Homo sapiens: one gene and its partners. The protein of the gene in region 6 purifies or fractionates together with the protein of the main gene of each other region. This does not show direct contact. Each region holds a gene or a part of one and is shown on either strand. Other genes may lie near its edges.

Region 1 (4,565 bases), on a different chromosome or scaffold from region 6:
CTCCTGACCTCAGGTGATCCACCCGCCTTGGCCTCCCAAAGTGCTGGGATTACAGGTGTGAGCCACAGCGCCTGGCCTCTATTTTCTTGTGTATTACATTATTGTAACAAGTTTCTATTCAGCTTTCCGAGAAGCTCTTTACTCTGATACTACCATACCTAAGTTAGGAGGCACTGTAAACAATAATCCAAGAAGTTTAAGATTTATTTTCAATGCCACTGCTCCCATGAAAACTCAAAGTAACCCTTCCCTACTCTGATTTACTACAGCATTAAGTAATGTCATATAATGTAATCTTTAATTCCTTCACTAGTTGATCTCTTCTCTCCAACTAGTCTGCCTCTCCCATCAAGGACCTTACCTTAGTCATACATGTATGCTTTTTCTTACTGCTCCAGCAGTTAGCAAAACTGGCTCACAGATGTATTAAAGAACTTCTACAGGACTCTTTTCTAGTTCAAAGTCTTTCTTCCACCAAACACTAGCTATTCAACAGACAGGAGAGAACTAAAATACCTTGGTGGCATAGACTTCATATTGCTCTCTGGCTCTTCAAATACATTAGGACTTGCATCAGGAGTTACTGATATATACGGGGCAGGTACAGATGTTGAACGTAGATATCTCATTTCATCCTGGAATAGATTGTCATCTTGATAGCCCACAAAATTTTCATGATGATGCCTGCATTAAATCAAACCCAATAACTTAAAGCATGATGGCAATACAGATCCTCTCCATTTTTAATCTCTTTCATAACAGGAAAAGCAGCACATGTAAATCATAGTTAAAGGCAAAGCATTAAAATAATCGTAGATGTAGGTAGGTGAAAATAAAAGTCTGATAATTTTATTCATCAACATTCCAGGTACCACGAACATTTCAAATCCAAAATTGAACTCAGTTTCTTTCCTTTTGAGAACTTTTCCATCTTCCAGTGTTTTGGTGAATAAGCCCACCAACCATCCAGTTGCTTAAGCTAAAATATTTCCAGTGTTGTAGTAGGCTTAGCCCTCTATCATCATCATCTTTCAAGCCCATGATATTAGGTTTCCTCTCAGAGCCATTCTCTCTTCTCATTCCCTATCATCACTGCCTTGGTTCATGCTTATTATTTCTTGCACAGACCACTGAAATACAAGCAGTTACTTTTTTGGGTAGGAACATACATAAGATCATATTTGAAAAATATTAGATATATGAAATTTTCTGTGGTTCAGGGTGGAAGGGGTGCCCATTCCCCAGACAGCTAAAAAGAAAAAAATCTATAATTATGCTGTGTTAGCATTTTTCACGTTTTACAATTTGATTCTTTCCTTTTCAAAATGAACAAATAGTTGCTAACCTAAGTCCACTGAGTGGTGTGATTCACACTAAAGATCTATTGTATTTTGGCATACTGATGATTTCCACCTCAGTCTCAAATGTACTTAGTCTGATATTTTCATTTTTGTTGCTTATTCATTTTATTGTAATAGTAAGCACAAAATTTTAAAAACCATACAACTCTGCTACACAAAGAGGACAATTTCCAAAATGGAACTGTTGGTCGGCAAGCCATGTCAGTGGGCAATATCTAGATTACCTTCATTTGTCAGCTGATGAAAAAAATTTGGTTTTGGTATATGAAAGGCTCTTTTGGAGTGTCAGTGCATGATGTGTGAAAGTACAGGCTGCACCACTGAGGTCCAATATATGAAAACAGAATACTAACAGGTTTCTATCTCCAGTAATGCACTTTTATCTAGTCTCCACATTAGCTTCCACATTCCACAGTGATTTTTTAATTGCAAACCAGTTCATGTATTTCTCTGTTTAAAATTCTTCCACTGTTTCCTCTGCTCATGGGATAAAATGCAATCTTAACCTGGGCTACAGAGCCCGACATTACTTGGGTGAACCAATCACTTTGAACGGGCTTTCACATATTTCCTCCAGTAGCCAGTCCTTTAACAACCCGTGATTCCTGAAATGTGTAATGAGATTTCATTTGTGTCTTTACTCACCTGGGTTATTCTTCCAAGAGTCGCTTTCTTCCTGTCGCTTGCCTGACAGATTTCTATTTATCCTTTGAGACTCTACTAAAGGCTCAGACCCTCTGGGAAGCCTTTTCTGATTTCCTGGGGAAGATTCAGATACTCTCCATCTTTTATGCTCTAACAGCATCTTACATACATACTTCTATTGTAGCACTCCTCACATGGCATTTCAAATGTTTCACTAACATGTCTGACTTGACATCCGAGTATGAGTACATAGAAGCCAGGATTTTGTTATATTCATACATTCAGGGCCTAGCACAAGGCTGGTAGGTGCCCAGTTGGTATTCATTTAAATGCTAACAGAATGAATAATTTACGAAATAAAAGACTGCTAAGGAAACACACTTTCTTTACACTTCAGCATTTCGCACTAACAGAGTGAAGTCAGCCTACCAAAGAGTAAAAGATAGCTATAGTCTTATTTTCTAAGACATGTTGTGTATTAATACAATGCAAATTGATGAAGCATTTTTATAGTTTTTTAAATACCTATTACCATAAAGTCATTATGTCAGTCAAGGCAACTCAAAAAATAAATGCCTGGAAGTTTGTTTATAGTACACAATAGCTAATAAAGTGTAGGTCAAATACCGAACTACCCTAGATATCAATAAACAATCGCTGTTAATCCAAAGGTGATTAAAAAACAACAGCAAAATTTTATTACCTAGCTAATGTCTGCAGGTAGAGACAAGGCATTTTCACAGGAAGATCCTCAGAAATGCCTTCTTTTACACTGGGCAACTGAGATTGGAATGGCTTTGCAGGATGGTAACACAGAATGCTCGGTTCTGCTGCACTGCTCAGGGACAGCAGGAAGAGTGCATTGGCTTTAATCACCTGGTGAGCTTCCATGGTGGGCAAGGCACGAGGGGTCTTGACTTGCATTGGTTTTCTCCTAGATTGTTTGACCTGGCGAAGAAAAAAATCAAACTAATCTTTTCTGACTTACATTAAAATCCTTAGTTTCTTAAGCTAAGTATTTTGAGTTTCCAATAAAAATTATTAAACACTTGTAAAGCTATTTTAAGATAATAAGATTATAAAAAACAACATTCATTTCATATTCATCCTGGGCTGACCAAGACAATTTTGTATCAAACACAAACTATACTTCCTTTCCTTCTTCAGAAAAATTTAACACCTAACTAGTTAAATCTAAATGTAATTCATTTTTTTAAAAAGTAAATCATTTCAGTGCGTGTATTCAGTGAAATTTTTTAGTTAGGTGCCACTAGAGTGAATAAAGAAAAGAGAGAGTAGATATGGAATAGGAAAACAAAGGAGCCAAAAAAAGAGGAAAAGAGAAAGAAGGTGAAAAGGAAAGCTCTCCATAGAGAGAATAACAGACAATTAATAATAAAGAGTTACACAACAAATATTTGTCAATAAGGCATATGTAGCAGAGGTTATCTAGTGTTATTCCAATATATAGTTAATTTTTAAAATTAAAAGCATTTGACTTAGTACAAATATTAAATTTGTATATGATTTCCATTATAAAAGCTGATCTTTTAATATCAACTATGTGGAATTATCTGATGTAGTAAGATTATAACAAGGTATTTTTATACAGTGTATCCATATCATTAAAAGTATAGCTCCAAATGGAATAAAATACCTTCTCCCTTGCAGCAGCCTGTTTTTCGCGGAGGTATTTTTCTCTACAGCGATCACATACCAGATACCAAGTGCTTCCTCCTATGCCACCATCACCACAGTTACCAGCCCATCCTCCACAAAAATGCCCAATGCTATTGTAACCTTGTCCACCAGCATATCGGCCACAACCTTGAAACAATACCAAAAATAAATATTTAACACTCCAAGTGTCCTTAATAGTTTGATCCTTATTACTCATACATTAATGACAGATTTACCTTCTCAAAGAAAGCAAAATACTGAAGTAGATATCTTATTTTTCAGGCTATTAACTATATCAGAAAAATAGCTTACTTGATCAAAAAGCAATCAATTAAATGATGCCCCAAATATGAGAGATACTTAGTTTCTAATCAGGCATATTAAAAGAGAGATAGAATATAGGTATATTTAGATATACTTAATTATGTCAATAAAATTAGACAATACAAGTATAAAAGTTCTATAACAATGATATATTTTCAGAAATCACATATTCATAAGACATTTGAGGTATAATATGTAGACAAAGAAAAAAATTAACCAAATTTGTATTAGGTGAATTTGGAATATTAGTCAATGTTACAGAAATCATTACATTTACTGAAAATGCAGTCTTCTGATAAAACAATATCACTTCCGTAGGAAAAAGCCTATAGAAATCAATCTAATCTAATTTAATTTGCAATTCTGAACAGGAAAATAGTAAAATCAAAGGAGATGCCCTGTGTGTATGGGCATGCCACTGTTTCTGCTGTGTGAGACAGACACATTAATGGCACACCCTTTGGGTAACACATAATATTTTTTAAAACATGCTACATGAAAGTGAAATAGCACTAAATGACCTGGCCATCATAATATTAGAATTTATCTGTTTTT
Region 2 (4,565 bases), on a different chromosome or scaffold from region 6:
CCAGCTAATTTTTGTATTTTTAGTAGAGACAGGGTTTCACCATGTTGGCCAGGCTGGTCTTGAACTCTTGACCTCAAGTGATCCTCCCGCCTTGGCCTCCCAAAGTGCTGAGATTACATGCGTGAGCCACTGTGCCTGGCCTCAGAAAAAGAGTTTTGAGTGAGGATTTGGATAAAGGTATCAATTAGGAAACAGGCAGCAAATCCAGTATCCATGGAGCTAATTCTACTTTGTGGCACATAAGGGACCAATTTGGGTAATGTGCACACTAAGTGAGCCACTCTGAGAGGAAATGAGAAAACCTACAGAAAATACCAAAAGTAGGCATTTTACAGCTGCCTCCCAGCCCTGGAGGAGATTTAACGAGATTGGCTGGCAGCGGGCCACAGGCCCAAGGAACCAGGGGCATGGCATGTGAACCCAGCAGTGGCCATCCCAGCTGACGTGGGTCCTCACTGTTCTGCCTTGGGCTTTGTGGGCAGGGATAGGAGCTTCTGCTCTCAGAGTCAGTTCCCAGCCTGGGCAAGTCTGGGTAGGCAGTACTTTCCCTAAGGGCCACTCACTTCCCGGTCCAGGCCACTGGAGATGACGCTGATGGTGCCTGTGCTCCGGTGAATGGTGAACATGAGGTCGTGTGGGTCCTTTGGTTCTTGGCTATGGATGGAGTAAGCAACCACCCCATTGTAGGTGTAGATGGCATCATCCTCATCCGTGGCTGTCACCTGCATCACAGAAGTACCTGGAGAGAAGGGATGAGTATCTTTTCCTCCCAGTTCCAACTCCAGCCCTGTCTACTTCTGGAACTCTTTTTTTCTTTTCTTTTTTTTTTTTTTTTTTTTTTTTGAGATGAAGTCTCACTCTATCACCCAGGCTGGAGTGCAATGGTGTGATCTCGACTCACTGCAACCTCTGCCTCCTGGGTTCAAGTGATTCTCCTGCCTCAGCCTCCTGAGTGGCTGGGATTACAAGTGCCCGCCACCACGCCCGGCTAATTTTTTAATATTTTTAGTAGAGATAGGATTTCACCATGTTGGCCCAGCTGGTCTTAAACTCCTGATCTCAAGTGATGTGCCTGCCTAGGCTCCTGAAGTTCTAGGGTTCCAGGCGTGGGCCACCGCGCCCAGCCTCCATCAGCCATGTTCTAACACTCCAGTCTTTGCTGCATTCCCTGTGGCTGCCATGCTCTCAAGAGCTTCGCATTAGGCGCTCTGTATTACCTAACAGTCTGCACATGGTATTTCTAATCTTCACCACTCTTCAAAGTTGATATTATTCCCATTTTTAGATGTGAGAAGTGAGGCTCAGAGGTCAAGAATATGCCCAGGATCACAGCCGGTAAAGAGGGCAAAGCCAAGATTCAAATCTAGGTCTTTGAAGCTCCAAAGCTAGTGGTTCCCAAGCTTGGCTGATCATCTGAAGCTTTAGGGAAAATTTCAAATATACAGATTCCAGAGCTCTGCTCTAGGATCATTCTTATTCAGGAACCTTGGGATGGAAGGGGGGAAATCTGGATTTTTAAGAAGATCCCAAGTAATCTGATACACAGCCAAGGAAATCAGGTATGGTGGGATCTTTTAGCATTTAAGGGTGTGGGCCCAGCCCCGTAGCAGTCCCCTTCCCAGTCCTCTTACCTGGTAGGACTCCCTCTAAGACACTCCCTCGGAAGGTGTCCTGGGTAAACTTGGGCTTGTGGTCATTCTGGTCGGTCACGATGATGGAGATGTTCATGGGGTCCTCCACTGAGGCACCATTCTCTGACACAGCGTGGCCAAAGAGCTGTGGGGTACACAGCTCTGGGGTCAGCCCGGTGCCACCCACCTCACCAGGCCTAGGATCCCACTTCTGAGGGGACATTTACAGTAGACACTAAAGGCTACTTGCCTCATACTTGGCAATCTCCTCCCGGTCCAGTGGCTTATTCAACAACAACCAGCCTGTCTCCTTCTCTACAGCGAAGACACCCTCAGGGGGGCTGTCTGCCCCCGGCCCCGTGATGCTGTAGAAAATCTTGGTGTCTCTATCTTTATTAGACTTGAGCTGGAGGGAAAAGAAAATGGCAGCTGACAAAGTAACAAATATCCCATGACTGTGACAAAGAGTCCTCTGTGAAGAGGGGCACTGCCATAGGAGAATCTGCTCACTGAACAGGAGAGGTTTTTCTGTCTCAGCCCCCACATTCAGTAGCAAGAAATCTCATGCAGGCCTTTGGATGGGGGTCCCTGGAGCCACCAATGCTTCCCAGGAGAAGGCACAGTCGTACCTGATTCAGTCTCTGGGGGAAGGGACCCTTGCCATTTTCAGGGACAGATATTGGAGCAACCACCCAATCTCTCTTGTGTCTTCGTAAGATACGTTTGGATGGGAAGATCTTCAATGGATTCCTTTCCTTCAGTGACCTTCTTTCCTGCAAGGAGAGAAACTCCTTAACCCAGATGTGCAAATAGCTGGGACATGCTCAACATCCTCTCACCTATAAGAGTTAAAAGGGTGGCTGGGCATGGTAGCTCACGCCTATAATCCCAGTACTTTGGGAGGGTCACTTGAGCCCAGGAGTTCCAGAGCAGCCTGGGCAAGATAGCGAGACCCTAAGTTAAATTAAAAAAAAAAAAAAGTTAAGGGTGAGGAGACCTAGATGAGCCTATTGCAAGGGAAACTCGGTGTTTACTTATACAGGAGGACCAGTGAAATATACTACAGCACATCCATCTAGTGGAATACTATGCAGCTCTAAAAATAAGAATGAGTATGCTCTCTATGTGCCAAAAGGGAAAGATCTTTTTTTCTTTCTTTTCCTTTTTTTGAGACGGAGTCTCGCTCTGCCACCCAGGCTGGAGTGCAGTGGCACGATCTCAGCTCACTGCAACCTCTGCCTCCCAGGTTCAAGTGATTCTCCTGCCTCAGCCTCCTGAGTAGCTGGGATTACAGGCATCTGCCACCACGCCCAGCTAATTTTTGTATTTTTAGTAGAGACAGAGTTTCACCATATTGGCCAGGCTGGTCTCGAACTCCTGACCTCAAGCAAGCCACCCGCCTCGGCCTCCCAAAGTGCTGGGATTACACGCGTGAGCCACCGCATTCGGCCTGATTTTTGATTTATGCTGTCAAATGGAAAGATTAAGGTATAGGGCAGCTTAATAGAGTTTAGCATTTTATTTAACAAACACATTGTGCTTAATATGTGCCAGGTACTGTTCCACCTTTTGTGTAAAAGGGTAGGAAATAAGACCATATAGTCATATTTTCTTGTACATGGATGAAGTCAGGGAGAATACAGAAAAAAACTAATAGTGGCTATCTGTGGAAAGAGGGTAGACATTGTGCTGTGCTGATACACTGTTAAGTAGAAAAAGAAAGGTGCAGACATGTGAACAGCATCTTAGCTTTTGCATAAGGAAAAGAATCTGTTTTTATATATGTATATATACGAAATAGGTAACATGTAAAAACATGTACAATATAAATAAATATGTAACACATGTAAGTATAGACTATATATAAACTCTGGAAGGAAAGAAACTGGGAACAGTGGTTAACTGCGTGAAGGGGTGAAGGGGGCTTTGGGCAAATGGAGGCAAACAAGGGGAGATTATTTATTGTATAGCTTATTATTATTTTTTATTTTTGAACCATGTGGCTATATTAGCTATTCAAAAATTAAAACGAAGTGTGGCCAAGCACCCCAGATGTATCTTCCTGGAGGCTCATGGGATTGGCAGGCCTGCATTTAGAGCTGCTTTCAGTTGGGGTTAACATGGATGATAAGGGAAGGAAGTAAAGGAAGGTGGGAGAGGGAATCCGAGGGACTCAGTACAGTGGGTGATTACTCACAAGGCAGCTCTTGGCTCCACTGGCCTGACCTCAGGCACCACTGTTGGGTAGCTGCAAGCACTACCCCCCTTAGATCAGTGCTCACACCCAAGCTGTGGACAGCTGAGGACTAACACTACCTCCTCTGAAGGGCTGACTTGGCTCACAATGGCCACAGCAACCAAGGGCTCCTGGCCAGCAATTTGGGCATGCACAGAGAACATCTTTCTTTTGTCCTGCAGGTGGACATGGTATTTTACCTGGACTGTCTCGCCATTCCGCACAGTGAAGTCATCATTATCAGTGCTAAACAGAGCTGGCTCTTGCCCAGGGCAGCCCATGAATACTGTGGGGAAGGGGAAGAGAGAGCATTAGGAAGGCAGGAGTATTCTGGAAGTTGCCCCAGGAAAACAAGACTGACAAGAGTCCTCTGACTGGATCCAGGACTGCTAAGTGGCTGCAGAAGGGAGACTTGGCTTACTTTCTCTGACCAGGAGTGTGACTAATACAAGTTTCAGAGGAGGCTTCCAAGTTTGGTTTCGAGAGGGAAGATCGCCTGGTGGTCAGTTTGTGGGTCAAACTCTTCTTTGTTCTTGGTCCCAGAGGACCAAGATCATAGACATTCATGGACATTAGCCCCAGGTGGCCTCATGTGACATGGGGTTGACTAAGGTCATAGCTAGAGGCAGAAGATTTTCTGAAGGCTGTGAGAGTCTATTTACACACAATATATATGCCCACAGGATCACCTGGACAAC
Region 3 (4,565 bases), on a different chromosome or scaffold from region 6:
CGCGGTGATTGCATGGAAGCGTGTTGTGATTGTGTGGAAGTGTGTCGTGATTGCATGGAAGCGTGTGATTGTGTGGAAGCATGGTGTCGCGGTGATTGCATGGAAGCTTGTGATTGTGTGGAAGCATGGTATCGTGATTATGTGGAAGCGTGGTGTCACGGTGATTGCGTGGAAGCGTGTTGTGATTGTGTGGAAGCGTGGTATCGCGGTGATTGCATGGAAGTGTGGTGTCACAGTGATTGCGTGGAAGCGTGTCGTGATTGTGTGGAAGCATGGTATCGTGATTGTGTGGAAGCGTGGTGTCACGGTGATTGCGTGGAAGCATGTTGTGATTGGAAGCGTGTCACGGTGATTGCGTGGAAGCGTGGTTTTGTGATTGCATGGAAGCATGGCGTCACAGTGACTGCGTGGAAGCGTGGTGTCATGGTGACTGCGTGGAAGCATGGTGTCACGGTGATTGCATGGAAGCGTGGTGTCACAGTGATTGCATGGAAGCGTGTCATGATTGTGTGGAAGCATGGTATCGTGATTGTGTGGAAGCGTGGTGTGATTGTGTGGAAGCGTGGTGTCATAGTGATTGCATGGAAGCGTGTCGTGATTGGAAGCGTGGTGTCGCGGTGATTGTGTGGAAGTGTGGTGTGATTGCGTGGAAGCGTGTCTTGGTGATTGCATGGAAATGTGTGATTGCATGGAAGCGCAGTGTCACGGTGATTGTGTGGAAGCGTGTCATGGTGATTATGTGGAAGTGTGGTGTCGTGATGATTGCATGGAAGCACCGTGTCATGGTGATTGTGTGGAAATGTGGTGTGATTGCGTGGAAGCGTGGTGTCACAGTGATTGCATGGAAGTGTGGTGTCACAGTGATTGCATGGAAGCGTGGTGTCACAGTGACTGCATGGAAGCGTGGTGTCGTGATGATTGCATGGAAGCGTGGTGTCACGGTGATTGCATGGAAGCGTGGTGTGGTGATTGCATGGAAGCATGGTGTCACAGTAATTGCATGGAAGCGTGGTATCATGGTGATTGCGTGGAAGCGTGGTGTCGTGATTGCATGGAAACGTGGTGTGATTGCATGGAAGCATGGTGTCACAGTAATTGCATGGAAGTGTGGTGTCATGGTGATTGCATGGAAGCGTGGTGTCGTGGTGATTGCATGGAAGCATGGTGTCACAGTAATTGCATGGAAGCATGTCATGGTGATTGCGTGGAAGTGTGGTGTCGTGATTGCATGGAAGCGTTGTGTCACAGTAATTGCATGGAAGCGTGTCATGGTGATTGCGTGGAAGCGTGGTGTCGTGATTGCATGGAAGCATTGTGTCACAGTAATTGCATGGAAGCGTGGTGTCACGGTGATTGTGTGGAAGCGTGGTGTCATGATTGCATGGAAGCGTGGTGTCACAGTGATTGCATGGAAGCGTGGTGTCGTGATTGCATGGAAGCACTGTGTCACAGTAATTGCATGGAAGCATGGTGTCACGGTGATTGCGTGGAAGCGTGGTGTCACAGTGATTGCATGGAAGCGTGGTGTCATGGTGATTGCATGGAAGCATGGTGTTGTGTAAATCTCACAGTGATAGGCACGCTGCTGCGTGGCAATCTGCACTTTTTGCAGGAGTACGTTTTTTTAATTACCAGACCTCATGATCCTCCGCACCTAAATCTGTCAGAATGCATCACCCTCAAAAGCACATTTTGGGCAGGGTGCAGTGGCCCACGCCTGTCATCCCAGCACTTTGGGAGGCCGAGGCAGGCGGATCACCTGAGGTCAGAAGTTCAAGACCAGCCTGGTCAACATAGTGAAACCTCGTCTCTACTAAAAATATAAAAATTAGCCAGGCATGGTGGCGGGCACCTGTAATCCCAGCTACTGGGGAGGCTGAGGCAGGAGAATCACTTGAAGCCAGGAGGCAGAGGTTGCAGTGAGCCGAGATCATGCCACTGCACTCCAGCCTGGCAATGGAGGAAGACTCTGTCAAAAAAAAAAAAAAAAAAAAATCAAAGCTCTATGATAAGAAATAGAGAGCAAACTCACAAACTCACACTCCCAGCTGTGACCCTGACCCCATTCCTTCCCTCTGATAACGATGATCATTTTTATTAGTTTTTGGTTTATCCTCACGATGTTTCTTTCTGCAAATATGAGCAAATACATATACAAATCATATTTTTCTCTCTCTTTTGCACAAAAGGTGCACACTATGTGGGTTGCTTTTTTGCCCACCAGTAGATCCTGGAAAGCTCTCCTCTTCAGTACACAGAGGGTGTTCTCTTTCCTCTTTACGGCTGCAAGTGTCTCCCCATGCAGATGTACTGCAGGCTGTGCAGCCCACCATTGCTGATGGATGTTTGGGTCATTTCCAGCATATTGTCTCGACAGATACTACGCAATGAATACTCTTATGCATATGTTACTTTGCACGTATCTAAGCAGAATATTTTAATGCAATTGAGACACAATGTGTTGTGTTTTTTTCCAGTGAAACTGTTGCAAGCTTTGCCATTGAACGTCTCAGGGCCCCAAGCTTTTTCCATGTAACTTCCCTCCCTCCCCAAAATGTGTAGGAAAGGCTTGAGCGAAGCTTTTCTGATAATACAGCATCACTGCAGAACCGTAGCTCTAGCGTTTATCAGCCAGGGTCCTGGTGCACCAGAAGGGCACCAAAGAATTGTGTGAATGCAGGGGCCAAGTGCAGCAGTGATGGGAACTGCAGACCTGGCATGGTTCTGTCCGGGGCTGCGGTTACAAGTCACCACAAACCAGGTGGGTTACAACAATAGAACTGTCTTCTGTTCCAGCTCTGCGAGTCAGAGACATAAAATCAAGGTGCCGGCAGGAACGGTCTCGCTTAGGAGGTTGTAGAGGAGAACCCACTGCCTGCCTCTCTCCCGTTTCTTGGCCTGTAGCTGCCTCACTCCAGACTGCACCTCTGTCGCCACATGGCTCCTCCCTGCACCTGTGTGTCTCAAATATCCCTCTCCCTTTCTCTCTGTTTTGAAATTTTGGAGAGCCTTGCTCTGTCACCCAGGCTAGAGTGCAATGGTGTGATCACAGTGCACCACAGCCTCAAACTCCTGGGCTCAAGCGATCCTCCCACCTTAGCGTCCTGAAGCCCTGGGATTACAGGCGTGCATGACCGCACCCAGCCCTGCCTGTCTGTTATGAGGGCCTCTGTCTTTAACTTACATGTACAAAGACGCTATTTCCAAATAAGGGCTCATTCACAGGTCCCAGGTGGACATGTCTTTTGGGGGCCACCATCTGACCCTCCGCAACTGGTGAGGCCCCGCTGGCCAACAACGTCAGGAGCCTTCCCCACACTAGGCTCAAAGGAGGAAGGTAGGGACGGGGTTACCAGGCCAGGAAGAGGGGCCGCCCAGCGGGGGCTGCAGCCCCCCCAGGAGGAGCCCAGCTTCTGCCTCAGCCCAGCATGGGACAGGGGCTGGGAGGCCTAGACCTCCTCCCTCTCTCCTCCCATCGGCCAAACCCAGCAGGAAGCCAGAAGATAAGGGTGCCTGGGAGATGGGACCCTTTGGGGCCTCCTGGCTAAAGAGCAGAGCAGAGAAGAGCTGGACATGGCTCAGGGAGGGGTGGAGACCAACCTTCCCATGTGTCCCCCCATGCCCACTCCCACGGGAGCTGTGCCAGGTCACTCCCAGCCCTGATCTGTTGTTCCAGGCAGTCGACTACGAGCTCAACAGAGCTTTCATGCTGACAGTGATGGTGTCCAACCAGGCGCCCCTGGCCAGCGGAATCCAGATGTCCTTCCAGTCCACGGCAGGGGTGACCATCTCCATCATGGACATCAACGAGGCTCCCTACTTCCCCTCAAACCACAAGCTGATCCGCCTGGAGGAGGGCGTGCCCCCCGGCACCGTGCTGACCACGTTTTCAGCTGTGGACCCTGACCGGTTCATGCAGCAGGCTGTGAGGTGGGTGCACAGGACATGCCTCGTCCCTGCCTGCAGCTTCCCAGGTTCCATACAGAAGGGTCCAGAAATACCCCATGAAACCCACAGCCCAGAATTCCCCCAGATGGGTGGTCGGGGGCATCTCCAACCTAAGGCGTCCTTCCAGGAGGGAGCCGCAGCCCCTTAGTCCCAGATAGCCAGATGCAGCCCCTGATCAATCGTGAGTGTTGTGACCGGTGCTTACTCATTCAGCACTGTCTAGACACAGGCCGGCCCGATCCTGGCCACACTCTCATAGCTATAAGACTCAGCAACCTCCTGCCCTCTCTGCTCCTCAGCGTCCTTGTCCGTTCGATGGGGACAATGAGGGCGTCTGCCCACAGGGTCCTTGTGAGTTGAGACCACCCACTACTGGATGAGCTTGGTGCCCGTAGCCACTGCGTGGCCTGTCCTGTTGTGGGGCCGGGGGGGAGGGTGCCAGTCCAACGTGGAGGGGAAGCCCTAGAGGAGGACAAGGCCTGGGGGGCTCCAAGGAGACAGAGACACTGGCCCAGGCCCAGGCCCTGGAGGTGTGGCCAAGGAGGCCTGGGATCCAGGGCAGCCCCGCCCACCCCCAGCCTTACCTCCCCCTGCACTTGTGGTCTCCGCAGATACTC
Region 4 (3,554 bases), on a different chromosome or scaffold from region 6:
TCTTTAGTTCATGTCTTTTGCCCAGCAGTGTCCTCTTCCCACTCTTTTTCTGTTAAGCTCTAAAATCTCTTCCAGCCTCTGAGTGAGGGAAGGTTGGTAAGCACACTTCATGCCCTCATCACATTGTTCTCTTTTGTGTATACCTCGTTCTCCATCTCGCCCCTCCCTGTCCAAGCTCCACAATTTAAAAACACTGAGTCCATCACCAGGTCTGTTTGTCTCAGTGGTCAAGGTGGACTCAGCCCCTGCCGGGATGGACCTCACTGTGGGAGAGTGGGACTGGCGGTTATAACACACCCAGGCTTTGCTTTCATGAAGGGCCTGCAGTCAGTCTCAGGTCCTTACCAGTGCCATGGCGAACTTGGACCATCTGGTCTCTCCTCTTCCCTTTCAATGACACAGAGCAGCTGGAGTTTCCTAAAACAAGACTGTATCCTGTCCTTCAGATAAGGATGTGTTCTAAGACCTCTCCTTCTCGTCATCTTTTCTCTGTAGGTGGAAGAAAAAGAACTTTCCAAGTTATTCATAATTTATGCTATGGTTTTTTAGTCAGGAAAAATAGACCAGAATCATAACTCTGGCTTGAAAGGAGAATTTAGCTCTGAAATCCTTATAATGTTAGAATGCATTGAGTTCCAGGACATGACATTGGTTTCTATGTGGTAAATTTGTTACATCTTACTAAGTAGGGGGATTTGGGCATAATCAAGAACATAGACATAATAACCATCACAATTTGAAGAAATTAGTGTGAGGTCAAAGCTAAGACTGAACAAAAGGAAATGGAGAGCAGTGTGCCCTGTGTGGGTGCCCACGTGTGCCTGGTCTTGCCCACTTACAGATGGACTTAGCCCTGGCTTGGGGAAGCCTTTTCCTCTAGAACCATATTTGCTCACGTGTGTCTCCTAATTTTACTATTCTTCTGCCTTGAGATTGCTTATTCCTTTAATATTACAACTTACAGCAGAGTTTCCAAAGTGTGACTGTTGTTCACCTAGCCACATACATCTTTTAAAATGTAGGGGTGGACTCCATCTTCATATCTGAAGTAAATGTTCTAAAAGATGGTTCGGTAATTATACAATTATCCAAGGCCCAGAAACCCAGTCCTTGACTAAATTAGTGATGTGCTAATAATTCCCCTGTGTCAAACCAAATATCAAGACCATCCTCTCATTCGGCATGCCCAGGTAACAGGTGCCTCCACAGCTGAGCACACAGCAGGGCCTCCAGTAAAGAGGGGAGGTTTCTGGGGCCACCTGCCCTGAGATCTCAGGCTTTCTTGAGGCACCTGCTTCTCTAGAGGTCTTAGGACAGGAAACTCAGCAGCCTGCCTGAGAATGCAGCTTAAAATCCTTAGAGTCCAATAGTAAACGCATAGTGTGCACCAGAAACAGCTTTTAACCTTAAACTGCAAATATTGAATATTGCTTTAAAAATATGAAGCAGGAAGCCCACATTAATTTTCCTAACACATGTATTTTTAAAAAATTGCTTTTATTTATTTGCCTTTTCATTTTGTCAACAGCATCAACAGCTGTATTATAGTCAAGATGACTCCAACAGAAAGAACTTTGATGCATACAGATTGTATTTGCAGTCTCCTCATAGCTATGAAGATCCTTATTTTGATGACCGAGTTCACTTTCCAGCTTCTACTGATTACTCAACACAGTATGGACTGAAATCGACCACAAATTATGTAGACTTTTATTCCACTAAACGACCTTCTTATAGAGCAGAACAGTACCCAGGGTCCCCAGACTCATGGGTGTAGCATCAAGATGCCCAACAGAGGAACTCTTTCTTTCTAACCTTGTTCAGATTGAGGTGAAAAGTCCATCTTGCTGATTTGATGATTGAAATGTGAAAGTGAAGTGGAAGGAATGAATGAAGTGTGTTTTTTTTTTCTTTTTTGAGGAATTATCAGGGAAGTGAGGAAATGTTTGGGAGAGGACTTTCTAAGCTCTATTTAGGTGTTAGATCTAATTACTTATAGATTCTGTAGTCTGGTGAAGGTGTGGGTGACGTGATGAGAGGTTTGAGAAATGGGTGAAATGAAATGGGGGATATGTAGGTCAAATCAAATTAAAGATGATTTTTTTAATGTGAATAAAGTTATGTTCTGATAGTTTGTACAGAAAAAATAAAATGGATGCCCATGTTTTATTGCTATTACTAAATGTCAAGATTGTATGCTATTATGTCTTGTAAATTTCTTTTGTTGGTGTAAATATGGAAATGCCACATTGGTTAAGTGCCATCATTTGTAATGCAATGTGTCACTTGAAAAGAGATTTGAAGAAACTGACAACTTCAAAAACAAATGAGAAGCCCAAGGAACTGTGAGCAATTAAAAGCAAACCGCGACACCCTTTGTCTCCACCACACATAGTGTACTTTGGAAGCACAACGTCCAGGCTGGTACCGCAGCGCCATGCCCATTCCTCGCCTCATTCATAGGACACTTCACTGCCATTTTCTATTCACATAAAAGAAAAATAAATGTGGAAATTTCATCCTTGGAAATGTGTTCTCTATTCTTTTTAAATTTTCTGTATGTATATGGAAAAGCAGATTTAATAAACACAAATCTAACTGCATGTTGGAAACAGCTTAAATATATCCAACTATTTTGGACTTTTCCTAGTTTTATATATACTTTGTGAGATGGACCACACCAAAGAATTAAGCTATGAACTTTCCTTCTCTGACAATCTAGGTATTTTTATTTCTTGGAATCTATTTCAAATCTAGTACCCTTCACAGTTTTATCATGTTTTTCTATATGGCAGCCCGGCCATAACTAAATTGATATAACTAAATTGATACCTTTTTTAGGCATCATTTTTAAGAACTCAGTAACTTCATAAGAACAGTGGTTGGGCATTTATTTGGTTGGCACCAATATAATAAAACAAATTCTAAATTATGATCTTGTTGAGTAATTCCTGGATTAGGAATGGGGTAGGGGAAAGAAGCCCCACAGTAGGGTAGGCAGAGGTCCCCATAGCACCACACAGCATTACTTGGGAGCTTTTCTCCATCTGTGGAGGCAATGAGGGACACCAGGCCCAAAGTCTGAGGCCTTCTCAGGTCTTGCAGTTTCCACCCTTCAGTCCTAGCTCCTGGATCTTTGTTGGTGTAAATATGGAAATGCCACATTGGTTAAGTGCCATCATGGAAAACTAGGAACTAGTTTACCTGTAGCTGTACTAGGAAAACTAGGAACTAACGCCCATGGCAAGTCAAACCCAGAAGTGTTGTCTTAGCTCAATATACCCTGCAAGTGTAATACAAATCGCAGATTAAAACATTTGTACTTATATTTGTGAGTATATGGAAAGACACCCAAGAGAAAACTGCGTTTTCTTGCCGAATGGACAGCAGCCCAAGATGAGCATCCAAAGTGAAATGGAAATACCAGTGCGAGCATGAAAGTTCCTAAGATCTGCAAGCCGGGAGCCCTTCTGGGGTGCCTTCTGAAGAACACTCGAGCCAGCTTGCGGAGTCGACTGCCCAGCTACTGAGCCCTGGCTGCCTCATACCTGGCG
Region 5 (4,565 bases), on a different chromosome or scaffold from region 6:
GTTATATTTCACAACTAAATCTTACATATTTGAAGGTAATCTTAGACCCATTAAAACAAGATGTTTTCCCCCAATTTAAGATTCTGTGCTTTTATGACCTCTTTATATCTTTAAACTGGGTATTCTTATTTTTTTCTTGTTTAGCTTTTCAAAAAATCATATTGCTCATAATGAGTCTTTATGAAATAACTTATTGTTTCAGCTTGACAGTTTTCCTATGGTTTTCTGTGAAATAGCTTGCAAATCCTTTCTCTTAGTACCTTTTAAAGAATAGGGGTTGGCTGACATGGGAGGAGGAATTTTGGGGGAATGGACTTTAGTGTCAGATAACGGAAGGAAGAGAGAATGAAGTCCCCTTTTTGATGTTGAAATTTTTTTTTTTTTTTTGAGACAGTTTCACTCTTGTTGCACAGGCTGGAGTGCAATGGCGCGATCTCGGCTCACCGCAACCCCCGCCTCCCATGTTCAAGCGATTCTCCTGTCTCAGCCTCCTGAGTATCTGGGATTACAGGCACCCGCCACTACACCCGACTGATTTTTGGTATTTTTAGTAGAGACGGGGTTTCGCCATGTTGGCCAGGCTGGTCTCGAACTCGTGACCTCAGGTGATCCACCCGCCTCGGCCTCCCAGAGTGCTGGGATTACAAGCGTGAGCCACCGCACCCGGCCTGAAGTCTTTATAATTATGGTTTTGTTTAAAACAATGTTTGTTTGTTTGTTTGTTTGTTTTTGAGACGGAGTCTCGCTCAGTCACCCAGGCTGGAGTGCAGTGGTGCGATCTCGGCTCGCGTCAAGCTCTGCCTCCCAGGTTCACGCCATTCTGCTGCCTCAGCCTCCCGAGTAGCTGGGACTACAGGCGCCTGCCACTACGCCTGGCTAATTTTTTTTGTATTTTTAGTAGAGACGGGGTTTCACGGTGCTAGCCAGGATGGTTTCCATCTCCTGACCTCGTGATCTGCCCGTCTTGGCCTCCCAAAGTGCTGGGATTACAGGCGTGAGCCACTGCACCCGGCCAACATAATGTTCTTAATATATAGAAGGTACTCATATCTTTTAGTGAATACTTTATTCATTACCACCCAAAATATTACTTTTTAATTGCCTGACTAGTTAAATAAATACATCATAAAAATTAGGATGCTTTGTTTTTTTTTTTTGTACTTTGGTAAATTTTGCAATAAAATGGAAACTGTTTTTTTTCTCTTGATAGGCGCCCTTGGGATGTCCAATAGGGACAGCTATTTTTACGCTGCTATTGTTGCAGTGGTCGCCGTCCATGTGGTGCTGGCCCTCTTTGTGTATGTGGCCTGGAATGAAGGCTCACGACAGTGGCGTGAAGGCAAACAGGATTAAAGTGAACATCACCTTTTTATAGCATTAAATTCATTTTTTAAAATGATAAATGCTGGAGGGGGCCATCTGATTTGAATAAAGTTGAAAGAACATGTTAAAGTCAGTCTTAAGGAGTCACGTTTGAGTATGTAAATTTTGATCTTTCTAATATGTTGGTTTGTATATTCAGTTTTAACTGTATGAATCTGATTTGCAAATGAGAATTTGGAAAAGTTAGTTACAAAGAAATATGTTAATTTAATTAGACAATACTCTGGAAGGAATTTTATCTTCTTTCAACAAAACATGTTTTATAGTATTCTGACTTACGGTTGCTTTTGAGTTTTACTCATTTGGATATATTAAGATGCACACAGTGAAGCAAATTAAACTCCACTTTACGCTGGAATGCTTTCTTTAGCATGAAAATACCAGGTCCTTGGATTTGGGATTTTAATTTCCTATGGAAAGTTGCTTAAATTGTGGACACTGGAATTAATCTGAATGTCACTGAGGAATTTCACATGAAGTGTAATCCCTAGTCAATAAGAATTATCCATTACATTATTTTATGGGAAAACTAGGCTAAATTACATCCATTCAGGTAAAAGGACCTTAGCTTACTGAAGGATCTAAAGAGCAAAGCAAAGATCTCACTACTCAAACACTCAGCCTGCTTCCTTCAAGTCCCCTTGCAGGCCAGCTTTGTGCTTTGCAGACCAACTTTTTAATGAGATACTTTGCTTCCTCATTCAACATTGAAGCTAGGCTTCAATTAAAAGGTTCGAGGAAGCTCCATTTAAAATTGTTTTTTTTACTATTTTTTAAAATTGTAGTGTATATGATAGGAATTTGCATTTAAATATGTTCATTTTTGCATATGTTAGGAGTGGAAACAATCTGGAAAACATTTTTTTTTCATCCAAAAAGTATTCTCCTTGGGCATATCTGATGGAAAAAAACCTTGATTTTATTTTCGTATCTTTAGTCTGTGTTCTTTCTAGTTATTTGGTACTAATTATGTGCAATCTAAAAACACTCCCACAAGTATTTGTTTTTTAATTATAAAATCATAGTATATGTTCTTTGTAGAAAACTGGAAAAATACATATTCAAACAGGAAAAAAAATCAAAATTCCCCATAATGTTGCCATCTAAAAATAACCTCTATTTTAGTTGATATCCCGTATTCATTTTTGAAAGCCATTCCTTAATGCTAGTTTGATACACACTAAAAGTTTAGCTTACAAGTTCAAATTCTGCCAGCTTTTCCTGACAGCTATTTGCATTTTTTTCAGATGAGTGATTATTGGCCATTTTCTTTTTCTTTTTCTTTATTTTATTTATTTATTTTTTTGAGACAGAGTTTTGCTCTGTTGCCCAGGCTGGAGTGCAGTGGTGCAATCTCGGCTCACTGCAACCTCTGCCTCCTGGGTTCAAGTGATTCTCCACCTCAGCCTCCCAAGTAGCTGGGACTACGGATGCCTGCCACCACGCCTGGCTAATTTTTTTTTGTATTTTTTTGTAGAGACGGGGTTTCACCATGTTGTCCAGGCTAATCTTGAACTTGTGACCTCAGGTGATCCACCCGCCTCGGCCTCCGAAAGTGCTGGGATTACAGGCGTGAGCTACCACGCCCGGCCTTATTGACCATTTTCTAAATAAGCACATTCTATCTTTATTCTCTTAAAATTCAAATTTTCTGTTACTGATAATCCTAATACTAGGATTCTTGCTTAAGTATGTGAAACCATTACCGATTTGTTGTTCACATTTATTTTTTATGTTGTGAAACTGGACTAAAGGAATAGAGGGATGATTAGTCATAAAAGTCAAATAGCATTTGTGTTTAACTGTTGAGAAAAGTGAAAGATCAGTATGATTATTATGGAACTGTTTTTAATTCTTGCTTAAAGACTACAATTTTAGTATAATGACATTTGAGTCTAGGGTAGTATGTGGTAGATTTCTAGATGGTCCCTAATTAAGAAGTATTGTTGTATTTAGAATTGTCCACCTAATTTCTTTTTATATAATGCCAAGGTATTTCTTGTGCTTTTGGGATCTTATGCTGTTTGTAAAATGTTACTGTCCAATGTTGGATTATTGTTTTGGTTTCAGGCATTTGCTGAATAGGTGATGATACATGGGTATTTTTCTGCAAGTATTTAAACCAGGGGCATATGCAAAGGCAGTTGTAATTTCCTCTTGGAAAAAGCGCCAAATGTTTGAAGGTTAAAATCAAATGCTAGGGTTGATATTTAGGCTTATAACAAAATAGGCTTGTTTTCAAAGCAGTTTTTTCCTAGAGTTTTAACTGTTAACTCACTAGTTTGCTGCTGTTTTTAACTATGTTAAATAACATATGGTATTTGGCAAATAGATTTATTTTTCAAAATGTCTCACTAGTTTCCTTTTACACAATGTATATACTTCAAGATGTATAGAAAGGAAAGCTACAGTTGAGCCCTTATACATGTTTTAAGGTAGAAATATGTTCCCTATTGTTTGAAAACTGATTGTAAGAATAACCTCAGTTAGGAGATATAACTTGAAGTGTCAGTCCAAACTACTGATTTAACCCTATTTACGGTAACACATTACCTTCCTCACCTCCTGTTTGGCCCTGGAGAATGTAGTCCTTTTTCTCATTTGTGTTGAGAAATGAAAAGTCTGCTGTAGAATGTATCTGATGTCATTAGTTCTTCAAATGGATACCATTGTACATATAACAGTAGAATTTGGTTTGGGGTTGTTAGTGAAAAAAAATTTAAACCTGCCATTAAAAATCCCCATGTTTCATGGAAATCTAACAGAAATACATTGTAATAATTAGAACATTTTGTTTTCTTTTTTCTTTTTTTTTTTTTCGAGACGGAGTTTTGCCCTTCTTGCCCAGGCTGGAGTGCAAGGGCGCAATCTCGGCTCGCTGCAACCTCCGCCTCCCGGGTTCAAGCAGTTCTCCTGCCTCAGCCCCCTGAGTACCTCAGATGACAGGTGCGTGCCACCACACCCGGCTAATTTTTGTATTTTTAGTAGAGACGGGGTTTCACCATGTTAGCCAGGCTAGTCTCGAACTCCTGACCTCAGGTGATCCACCCGCCTCCGCCTCCCAAAGTGCTGGGATTACAGGTATCAGCCACCGTGCCTGGCCTAATAATTGGAACATTTTCATCATGAAAATGTCATCAGCTTTGCCAAAAGAAACAACCAATTGACTTGTTTGGCGTTTG
Region 6 (4,565 bases):
TGGACTCCAGTGTACAGATATGAAAAAATCCTACAAGGACCTTGTTCTTCTTTCTTTTGGGGGGAAAGGGCCTACAGACAAACAATGAACTAGATGAACAAATATACGAGATGATTTCAGGTGACAATAAATGCTATGAAGAAAACACAAAAGTGAAGTGTCATAGAGATTGACTTGAAAGGAAAAGCTGCTTTAGGCTGAATGGTCCGAGAAGGTATTTCTTCAGAGATGACAATTTGCAGTAAATGTAAATGAATAGCATTACATCAGAGAGAAGAGAGGAAAGAGAATGCCCTGTCTAAGTGATAGGCGATCAGAACTAGCTCAATATACAAGAAAAAAATCTGGCAAGCCCTACCTTAACCAAGTGATGAAATTTAACATAATCAGTGATATCACATGGATATCATGTACCCCTTGATATACTGTGACAGGAAAAGTATGCCATTTCTGTGGTATTCCCTCCAGGAACCCATAATTCCAGTCTAATCATGAGAAAAGCAACAAACAAAATGAGATTGGTGAACATCCTAAATGACACCTGGGCAGTATTCCTCAAGACCATTAACATCATGGAAAACAGGAGATGGACTGACAAGCTGTCACAGAACAGAGAAGATTGGGGAGACATAACTAAATGCAGTGTGGTACTGAGGATTAGATCCTGGAACAGAAAAAACATTCATGAAAAACTGCTGAAATCCAAATAACCATTATTAATAGTTAATAGCAATGCATCAGTATCCATTTCTTTGTAGTGGCAAATGTAAGATACAGCATTAACAATGGAGAAAACTGGAAAAAAGGTAAATGGGAACTCTCTGTACCACCTTTGCAACTTTTCTGTAAATCTAAAATTACTCCCAAATAAAAGCTTAAGTTAAAAAAAACTAATTCAAGGGACATTTACAATAGTTCATTCACTTCATATACAACATTTCATATAATCTTTATAAAAACTCATGAGAGATGTGATTATTCCCATTTTAAAACTCAAAACACTAAGGTTTCAAGAGACTAAGTTTCTTAGCCAAGTGGCAGAGCTAGATGGTGGTATTTCTTGTATTGTAACCCACGTCAGTATAACTTCCAAGCCCTTATCCTAAAAACTATGTGACATTATTTCCTACATAGGAAAAATTTTTTTCTTTTTTCTTTTTTTATGACAGAGTCGCGCTCTGTCGCCGAGGCTGGAGTACAGTGGCGCGATCTAGGCTCACTGCAAGCTCCGCCTCCTGGGTTTATGCAGTTCTCCTGCCTCGGCCTCCTGAGTAGCTGAGACTACAGGCACCCACCACCACACCCAGCTAATTTTTTGTATTTTTAATAGGGACGGGGTTTCATCATGCTAGCCAGGATGGTCTCGATCTTCTGACCTTGTGATCCGCCCGCCTCGGCCTCCCAAAGTGGAAAAATTTCTTATTTGCTACACAGAATGAGGACTTGTATTTGTATAATATCATGTAGCTTATAAAGTGCTTCTATACAGTATCTTACTGATCATGACAATAGTCTTTGAGGGAATGAGGCTGCTATTATTAGTCCTATTTTAACTAAACAGGTGTTTGGTGCAAGGAGATAGAAACTAGTAAAGGAACAGAGATCTAAACCTAAGTCTACTGATTGCTAACCTTATGCCTTTTCACAAGACTCTGCTACTCTGGGAATAATGTTGCATGAGGTTAATAAATGGCTTGTGCTACTATATTTTTAGTTCCTTCCCTTCTGAAAATAAACACTGTCTGCTACTTCACTCAGGCTTTGGAGAGATTAACTTCGTTACAAAATGTAGGGAGGACAGTTAGAAGTAGCTATCAACCCACTGTTCATAGTCACTAATCACCCAAGAAAAGACACTATGGTTTTCTTGGCTTGCTACGATTTCCCCCTTGTATATGTGGTCTGGGTTTTAGTTTTAGTTCTGTCATTAGCACTGTGAGCTAGGTAACTCATCTCTTTCGGTGTCTGTCTTTCTATCTGTAAAAATGGGATAATGATACTTCTGCCGACCCTCTCACAAGATTGAGTACATAGCACATCAGAAATGGAATATAAGTGGAAAATAGAGAAAAGGTGTAGAAAGAATACGGAATTGTTTTATTCCTTACATCTGTCAAACTTGGTGTACTGTTTCTGTACTGATAATCTTAGTGATTTTTGTATTTCCCACAACGTTGTACAAGCTCTACCTACAGTCATCAGTGTAACTTAGAGGATAAATAGTTTAATGTTTAGAAAGGATGCACAGCTCCTCAGATGAGTAATAATTAAAAGTATAAATATTTAGAAAAAGGTAAGGCAAATTCTCTGATATTACTGTACAATCACAACTTAATACATAATTCTCTCTGAAGTGACCTATACATTATGCTTCTTTATTTAGAAGGACAGTGTCAAGGTTTAGTTTGTTTCTGAAAGGTGAAAAACTTGAACATAGATTATAATCAAGAAGCTAAAGTTAAAATTATTTCTTTTGCTCTAATGGTAGCAATGTGTAATCTGATGGTAAATTGTAGTAACTTTAATGCCATGGGGACTTTGAAATGTTAAAAATACAAATGTATTTTGAATTTGGAGCCTATGCTTTGTCATCTCTGCCCAAGGCAATTACAGAATCCATGAGCCCAAATAGCAAGTCCTTGACGCCTGCGAAAAAGGACTAGATCAGTGAACATAACAAATATAACGTTACAGCAGTGGACAGGGGCAAAGGGGCAGGTGGCAGAGTTTATGTAAGGAAAACTGACAAGGCATGACCATTTCTCCCAAAGGACATCAAGCATGATAAACTTAATGTAGTAAATAGGCACACAGATAAAAGAGAAATTAATGACTGTCACCTCCTAAATGTATGTTGTGGTAGTGGTGTTTGTAGTTGTTTTATTTTAACTGATGATACCATAGGTTCAAAGGTTCTTGTTTGTCCATTTACCCTAAAATTTTACATAAAGTCAAAATAGGCATTAAACAGTAAAGTTAATCAGGGATTTCTTTGGATGGAGAAGTATAAAGAATTCAGCTCCTCAAGGATTGATACTTATTTATAATCTTTTTTTAAATGCTCCAGAAGAAAGCTCACAGGAGATTTCCAAGTTAAGAAGACATTAAATGTTTCCAGCTGACGAAGAAACACACAGATGGGATTTAAAAAGACCTTAAAGTCTGTGCAAGTGGGTAGAGAAGTAACATATGAGTTTTAACCCTGGCAAGAGAACAAAATATATTTAGGAATATTATTTTAAAAAATACAAGTGGAGGGCTTTAAGCTATCAGTTAATTAATTCAACCATTCCTTCAACCTGTACTATGTTGAGCCTCTCCTATGCTGAGCCTCGACTTTGCATCAAGGCAGTGTGCTAAATGTTGGAAATGCAAAGATAAAGATCAGGAGGGGAGACAAATAAACACATTTACATGGGAACTAAAATAGAGTTACCCACAGCATAGAGGACAGTCTCTCAGTTTGAAGGGATTAAATAAAATTTCTCAGAGAATGTGAATCTTTTTTCCAGCTTTATTGAGGTACAATTAACAAATAAAAATTGTGTAGATTCAAGGTGTACTATATGATGCTTTCATATACATATACATTGTGTAATGATTACTACAATCATATTAATCAATATATCCATCACCACACAGTTACCCTTTGCGTTTGTGTGTATGTGCTGTGAGAACATGTAAGATCTATTCTCTTAGCAAATTTCAAGTAAGCAATACATTATTATTAACTGTCTTCACCATGCTGTGAGTTAGGTCCCTAGAACTTACTCATCTTATAATTGAAAGTGTATACCCTTTGACCAATATGTCCCCGTTTCCCCCACATGCCAACCCCTGGCAACTATGGTAAAACTGCTTCTATGAGTTTGACTTGTTTAGATTCCACATATAAATACAATCATACAATATTTATCTTTCTGTGCCGGGCTTATTTGACTTAGCATAATGTCCTTCAGGTTCATCCAAGTTGTCATAAGTGGTGGGATTTCAGAGAAGGTGAATCTTAAACAGTGAGTAGAAGTTATCCCTATGAGGGAGGACCCACAGACCCTTTGAAGGAAGCGGACTGCTCCTGCAAAATCTGGGAGACACCACAAATACTGTGAGTGCCCCAACTGCGGAAGTGGGAAAGGGAGAGCCTCCTCTCCTGAATACACAACCCCACTGGGGCAAATGAAGGTCTGTTTGCGGGAGAAGTTTCTGACCTTACCTGGAGCTGAGTCAATTTAAAGAGCCAAGCAAAAAAAAATATAGAGAGGAAGCAGCAGAAAGTCCCTAGGAGCTCGCTGGGTCCCCAGTCAGGCCATTCCTGCCTGGCATCACAGGGATCCACTGGGAGGGCAGCCAGAGAAGCAGGGGTTGGGGGAGGGGGAAGCACCACAGGGAGAAGGAAAATTCCAGCTGAACTTCGTAACAATTTGAACAGGGTGAGAAGCCTCATGGCCAGAACTTGAGGGAGGGTGTGAATCCAGCATGCAGACTCCACAGCGTGGGGGAAGAACCAGGCCGTTTTCATTTGAAGGTGGCAGGCAGGTAGCCTGGGGCAAGTTCTCAAGCCCAGC
Region 7 (4,565 bases), on a different chromosome or scaffold from region 6:
GTACATTTCCTTTTACTCTGGAATTACTGAGGATAAGAAAGTCAGTTAAGAGTGCGTGTATAGAAGGACCTTTTTAGTATCTTAAAGTAGTTGTAAGACATCACTTTCCACATGGAAGCTGTGATATATAGAATTATACATGGTATTAAAAGAAGAATTTGACCAAAGCTGCTGAATATAAAAATAACTATGGCTTAATAGCAAGATAGTATAGTATGAGGTTTGGTAACCTGCAAACTTGGGTCTAGATTTTTATCTTGCCACTTGTTAGCTGTGTGAGTTTGGGAAAACTATTTACCTCTTAGGGTTATGGGGGTGATTAAGTGAGCTTAACAGTGCCTGTTACATAATAAGCACTCAATAAATGGGAGGAATTTTCCTATTACCTGAATTGGGTCTAGGTTCACACTGTGGCTCGTCATTAAGGAGATATGTGGCCTTGGGCAAGTTACTAAAGCTTTCTAAGCTATAGTTTTCCTCATCTATAAATCAGGTCCTAATAATACTTATCTTACAGTGTTTTTGTGAGGTTCAGATGAGATACCAGCTAGAAAAGTACCTGGAATGCAGTGAGTGTTCAATTAGTGATAGCTATTAATTATAATCTGTGCTAAAGATTTCTGGACTTGTATTCCTATGTACTGCTTAGGAGCTGTGGTCCTTAGACACATGGCCCTGTCTGGCTGAGCTTCAAATAAAGAACCCCGCTAAGAAAGCTCACCATGCTGAAGGCAGTTATGGTGAGGGTAAATACACTTGGGTACCAAGAGCACTCTGGAAATATGCAGTGGGTGATTAAATATGCCAGTGTCCTATTTCTTAATTTACATTATGACACCTGTCATCAGAAACACTTTTTAAATTTACATTACACAAAATGAATCTAGTCCTTCTTCACCACGCCAAAGTTAGGATTTGCTATCTATCCCCAAGGATGATATTCCAGGCTTGTTCCCAATATGTCTTATTTTTTTGCTTATCTTTTCTCATGTAATGTAGAAAGTAGCCTCCTCTTCTCAGAGGGTAAATACAAGGGTCAATCCCTGATTTACTCTAGGTTCTTGGTGGAGAACATACATACTGGATAGAGAAGAAACCCCTTCTCACCTTCTTGCCCTCAATAACCATGAAGATGCATCCTACCACCGTCAGGGCAATCATTAGATAGCTGATCTTCACTCGCATCTTGTTCTTTGCAGCATCAAGCATCTCCAACCTAGTAATACAATGAGATCATGAGAGAAAGTTATTAACTTTTCCCTTTCTGAAGTTGCTCAGGATAAAAGGCTGTGTATAAATTCAAAATGTAGTAGTGTCTATAAATATAAATAGGGAGACCTAGAGATCTCTTTAAAAAGGGCCTAGAGATCTCATAGGACTTTGGGGAGGATGAGGCATTTTTCGTAACTCATTTATGTATAAAATACAGGATAGCACACAATTAAGTACAAAAGAAGAAAACAAAAAGAGAAGTCAAGAACAAAGCCAAAAAAAAAAAATGGGCAAGGCATATTAATCTACACTTGCTATGGTGGACCCCAATTTTGGCTCTCAGGTTTCCAAGCAGCCTATAAATGCTAGAAGTGAAACAGTCATTTCTCCCTGAGGTTCTTAAGAAGACATTATGTGATGTAGTCATCGTCTGAAAACATCTCGACAACAGATACTACAATAAGCTTCATATGTTTCAACACAAAGCACAATTCAGAATGATCAAACATTGGAGAAAGTTAACCAATGTGCTCCATATACCCAGCTTTTTGCTCTCTGTCTTGAACCCAGAATAGATTTGAGAATATCTAAAATAGTAGGAAGATCCTTTAAGCAATGCTCCTCAATATTTATCTTTTTAAACAAATGTTTTGCTAAAATTGAGTGACAGTGAACTTGATATTGTGGTCTTTGGCAAGTGCCAAAGTGCAGCTCTTCTAACCTATCTACTGAATACAGACCCATGTGCCTTAAAAAAAAGTTGATGGTTGGTTCATCATTCTTGTGTGAAACCTAAGAGGCTTAATATAGAAGAGTCTAAAGGCCAATCTACCTTGGTGATTTTGCAAGTAGGCAGTGAGTCATGGTTCTATTTTTAATTTACTTTATTTAAAGAGATGGGGTCTCACCATGTTGCTGACTCAAAATCTTAGACTGAAGCGATCCTCCTGCCTCAGCCTCCTGAGCAGCCGGGGCTATAGGCATGCATTGCCACACCTGGTGGTCACGATTCTGTTACCTCGGTGTCTGGCAGAACCTCAAGGCAGGGGATGTGGAGCCCTTATGGGGCCCAGGATTAACTTATGGCCTTCTCAGTAGATGTGTAAATAGGAAGTGATTATCTCTAGATGATGGGATTGAAGTGCTTTCTTTCCCCTGAGATATTTAACATATATTACTTTTAAAATTGGGGAGGGGAGTACTTTAAAAATGCTTGGAAGGAGGCAAAGAGTCTGGGATGTTGCAGGTGGAAGGAGGAAGATGATGAAGCCATGTACAATGTGATGTAGGAGCTGGGACCTGTGAGGCAGCATGTGGACGGGGTTCTCCAGGCACTTAAGCTGGGCCTGCAGGCTGGCAGGAACCCAAGACAACTGCTAAGGACTGTCAAATTGGTCAGTTAGGAGCACCTGAGATTCCACTAACCACAAACTGACTTCCCATGTTGACGGTATTTTATGGGATTTGAAGTGCCATGATCCTCATGAAAAGTAATCCATTCCATAGGGAGTAATAGGAATGGGCAAGTTAAGCAGTGCCTGTTCAGAACTACCAGCACAAGGACAAATGGCTGCCCAGGCCCAGAAAAGACCCTTCCAGAGTGATTCGTGAGGTAGTATTTTGGGCCTGAGGGGATCTTGGAACCAACTATTAGGCAGACTGAGGAAGGTGTTCTATAGCAAAGCCTATACAGCATCTGTTAAGGCCATGGGTGTCTACCAGCTTATTTTCTGCTGGTATAGGAAGAATTAGGGCATAGGCAAGAACCTGATGTCACTGTTATTTCCAGTATTCTCTTATTTCCCAGAAGAATACATGACTTGAGCTAAGAAAAACCAGGGCTTTCCTGCTGAAATAATTCTAGTTAAAGTAATGTGCTATCAATTTGACTGGCAGAAGCAGAAAAGCTCTATTAAAGCTGTTGTAAACAGAAAGTAAATACTACATATTTCCCTGGGAAAGAAATCCTGAATGAGCTCAGATCTTTTTCAATCATGACTTGAAACCAGAGACCAGAAGATCCAGGAATAGTTTCTTGCTGACAGGGAACTTCCACGAGCTTTGTCTGAAGTCCCTGTCCCTGAATAGGATGATGCCTCACAGAGGAGATGACATCTATTTCTCAGAATCTCTTTTTAGCCAAGATGCCAGCCAGTCAGGGTCTTTAACATGAGGCTAGGGCACTGGTTCTCAACCAGGGGAGATTCCCACCCCGCTCGTGCCCCTTGGACATTTGGCAGTGTCTGGAGACATTTCTGGTTGTCAGCACTGCCGCAATGCTACGGGCATGTAGGGGGCAGAAGCCGGGGATGCTGCCAAACATCTTCCAACAAATAGGACACCCCCCTGCCACAAAGCATTATCAAGCCCCAAATATCAATAGTACTGAGTTGAGAAACTGGGTTGGAGGAACCTGCACTCATCATCTACAAACTCTGAAAAAGTTCCATGATCCCAGCCAAGATCCCTTCCCTTAGGTTTAAGGAAGTTGGTGACAGGAAGCACTCTTTCCTGAATTCCAGAATATTGCAATTAAATACTTTTACACCTAAGGTTGAGTACTTAAGTGGATTTGGGGGAATACAGTCATTGTCAATGGTACTTAATTTATATACCTAGATTAAAAACAAACTTTAAAAAAGTCACACTTCTGTAGCCAGGGGATGAAATCAAATAATCAATTGACTTCAGAGTACCTGACAGTTCTTCACCAGTCACTGTGTAACTTAACAATGATAAGACACAGGTTTTCTAGCATTGTTTATATTCCAAGTACTTACCAAAGATAAAACATTTGGAAAAGTGAAAAATGTTTTCAAATTTGGTTGAAAAGTTTTAAACAGTTGGAACTCAGAGGCATTGCTTTTCCCTTAGATCAGTGAGAAATGAAAGCTGCTTGTAATACTAAATTCAGCACTCACGAGACAGTCTCTGGGATTTCATCTTCCTTTTTGAAGCGACCTGACCATATGAGGATCTTTTTCTGCCAATCCGTAGGTTTGTGTAAAGGCACTCTGTTGTAAGTGCCTATGAGAAAAACCAGACAAGAAATTTTATGTGTTTGAGATTATAACTCTCAAATTTAACAACAGAAAAATGGTATTAGTGCTTTTTAACTAGTCACTAAACAGAAACACTGAGAAACCTCAAGTTAATTAGAACTTTATTTGAATGGAATTTCTTAGGATGCTTCATTTTCCAAATAAGATTATAAAATCCCAAGGAAACGGTGAGGAGCTTGTCTGACTTCAGCAGACTAAGAAAAAGTTTGTAAGGTACAATCAGATTTTACCAGATCTTGAATGTCAGGCTAAGGGGTTTAGACTTGATTGGGAACTACTGTACATTTTGAA

Evidence for each region.
Region 1: the proteins of CTNNA3 (region 6) and MYCBP2 purify together in Homo sapiens (affinity purification with mass spectrometry; 2 studies listed by BioGRID and IntAct, with this or other methods). This does not show direct contact.
Region 2: the proteins of CTNNA3 (region 6) and CDH3 purify together in Homo sapiens (affinity purification with mass spectrometry; 2 studies listed by BioGRID and IntAct, with this or other methods). This does not show direct contact.
Region 3: the proteins of CTNNA3 (region 6) and CDH4 purify together in Homo sapiens (affinity purification with mass spectrometry; 2 studies listed by BioGRID and IntAct, with this or other methods). This does not show direct contact.
Region 4: the proteins of CTNNA3 (region 6) and PKP4 purify together in Homo sapiens (affinity purification with mass spectrometry; 2 studies listed by BioGRID and IntAct, with this or other methods). This does not show direct contact.
Region 5: the proteins of CTNNA3 (region 6) and VMA21 purify together in Homo sapiens (affinity purification with mass spectrometry; 2 studies listed by BioGRID and IntAct, with this or other methods). This does not show direct contact.
Region 7: the proteins of CTNNA3 (region 6) and FAM162A purify together in Homo sapiens (affinity purification with mass spectrometry; 2 studies listed by BioGRID and IntAct, with this or other methods). This does not show direct contact.

What each region holds. Positions count from the first base shown.
Region 1 is NC_000013.11:77,092,649-77,097,213, forward strand, and holds part of MYCBP2 (E3 ubiquitin-protein ligase MYCBP2), read right to left. Parts: intron 3,834-4,565; coding exon 3,664-3,833; intron 2,955-3,663; coding exon 2,710-2,954; intron 685-2,709; coding exon 517-684; intron 1-516. UniProt on the Homo sapiens protein: Atypical E3 ubiquitin-protein ligase which specifically mediates ubiquitination of threonine and serine residues on target proteins, instead of ubiquitinating lysine residues.
Region 2 is NC_000016.10:68,675,973-68,680,537, reverse strand, and holds part of CDH3 (cadherin-3 isoform 1 preproprotein), read right to left. Parts: intron 4,154-4,565; coding exon 4,068-4,153; intron 2,405-4,067; coding exon 2,261-2,404; intron 2,038-2,260; coding exon 1,882-2,037; intron 1,777-1,881; coding exon 1,632-1,776; intron 740-1,631; coding exon 564-739; intron 1-563. UniProt on the Homo sapiens protein: Cadherins are calcium-dependent cell adhesion proteins. They preferentially interact with themselves in a homophilic manner in connecting cells; cadherins may thus contribute to the sorting of heterogeneous cell types.
Region 3 is NC_000020.11:61,919,775-61,924,339, forward strand, and holds part of CDH4 (cadherin-4 isoform 1 preproprotein), read left to right. Parts: intron 1-3,676; coding exon 3,677-3,930; intron 3,931-4,559; coding exon 4,560-4,565. UniProt on the Homo sapiens protein: Cadherins are calcium-dependent cell adhesion proteins. They preferentially interact with themselves in a homophilic manner in connecting cells; cadherins may thus contribute to the sorting of heterogeneous cell types.
Region 4 is NC_000002.12:158,678,901-158,682,454, forward strand, and holds the end of PKP4 (plakophilin-4), read left to right. Parts: intron 1-345; exon of another isoform or gene 346-489; intron 490-1,528; coding exon 1,529-1,777; 3' UTR 1,778-2,529; downstream 2,530-3,554. UniProt on the Homo sapiens protein: Plays a role as a regulator of Rho activity during cytokinesis. May play a role in junctional plaques.
Region 5 is NC_000023.11:151,403,706-151,408,270, forward strand, and holds part of VMA21 (vacuolar ATPase assembly integral membrane protein VMA21), read left to right. Parts: coding exon 1-35; intron 36-1,210; coding exon 1,211-1,353; 3' UTR 1,354-4,565. UniProt on the Homo sapiens protein: Required for the assembly of the V0 complex of the vacuolar ATPase (V-ATPase) in the endoplasmic reticulum.
Region 6 is NC_000010.11:67,220,431-67,224,995, forward strand, and holds part of CTNNA3 (catenin alpha-3), read right to left. Parts: intron 1-4,565. UniProt on the Homo sapiens protein: May be involved in formation of stretch-resistant cell-cell adhesion complexes.
Region 7 is NC_000003.12:122,403,932-122,408,496, reverse strand, and holds part of FAM162A (protein FAM162A), read right to left. Parts: intron 4,240-4,565; coding exon 4,134-4,239; intron 1,217-4,133; coding exon 1,108-1,216; intron 1-1,107. UniProt on the Homo sapiens protein: Proposed to be involved in regulation of apoptosis; the exact mechanism may differ between cell types/tissues.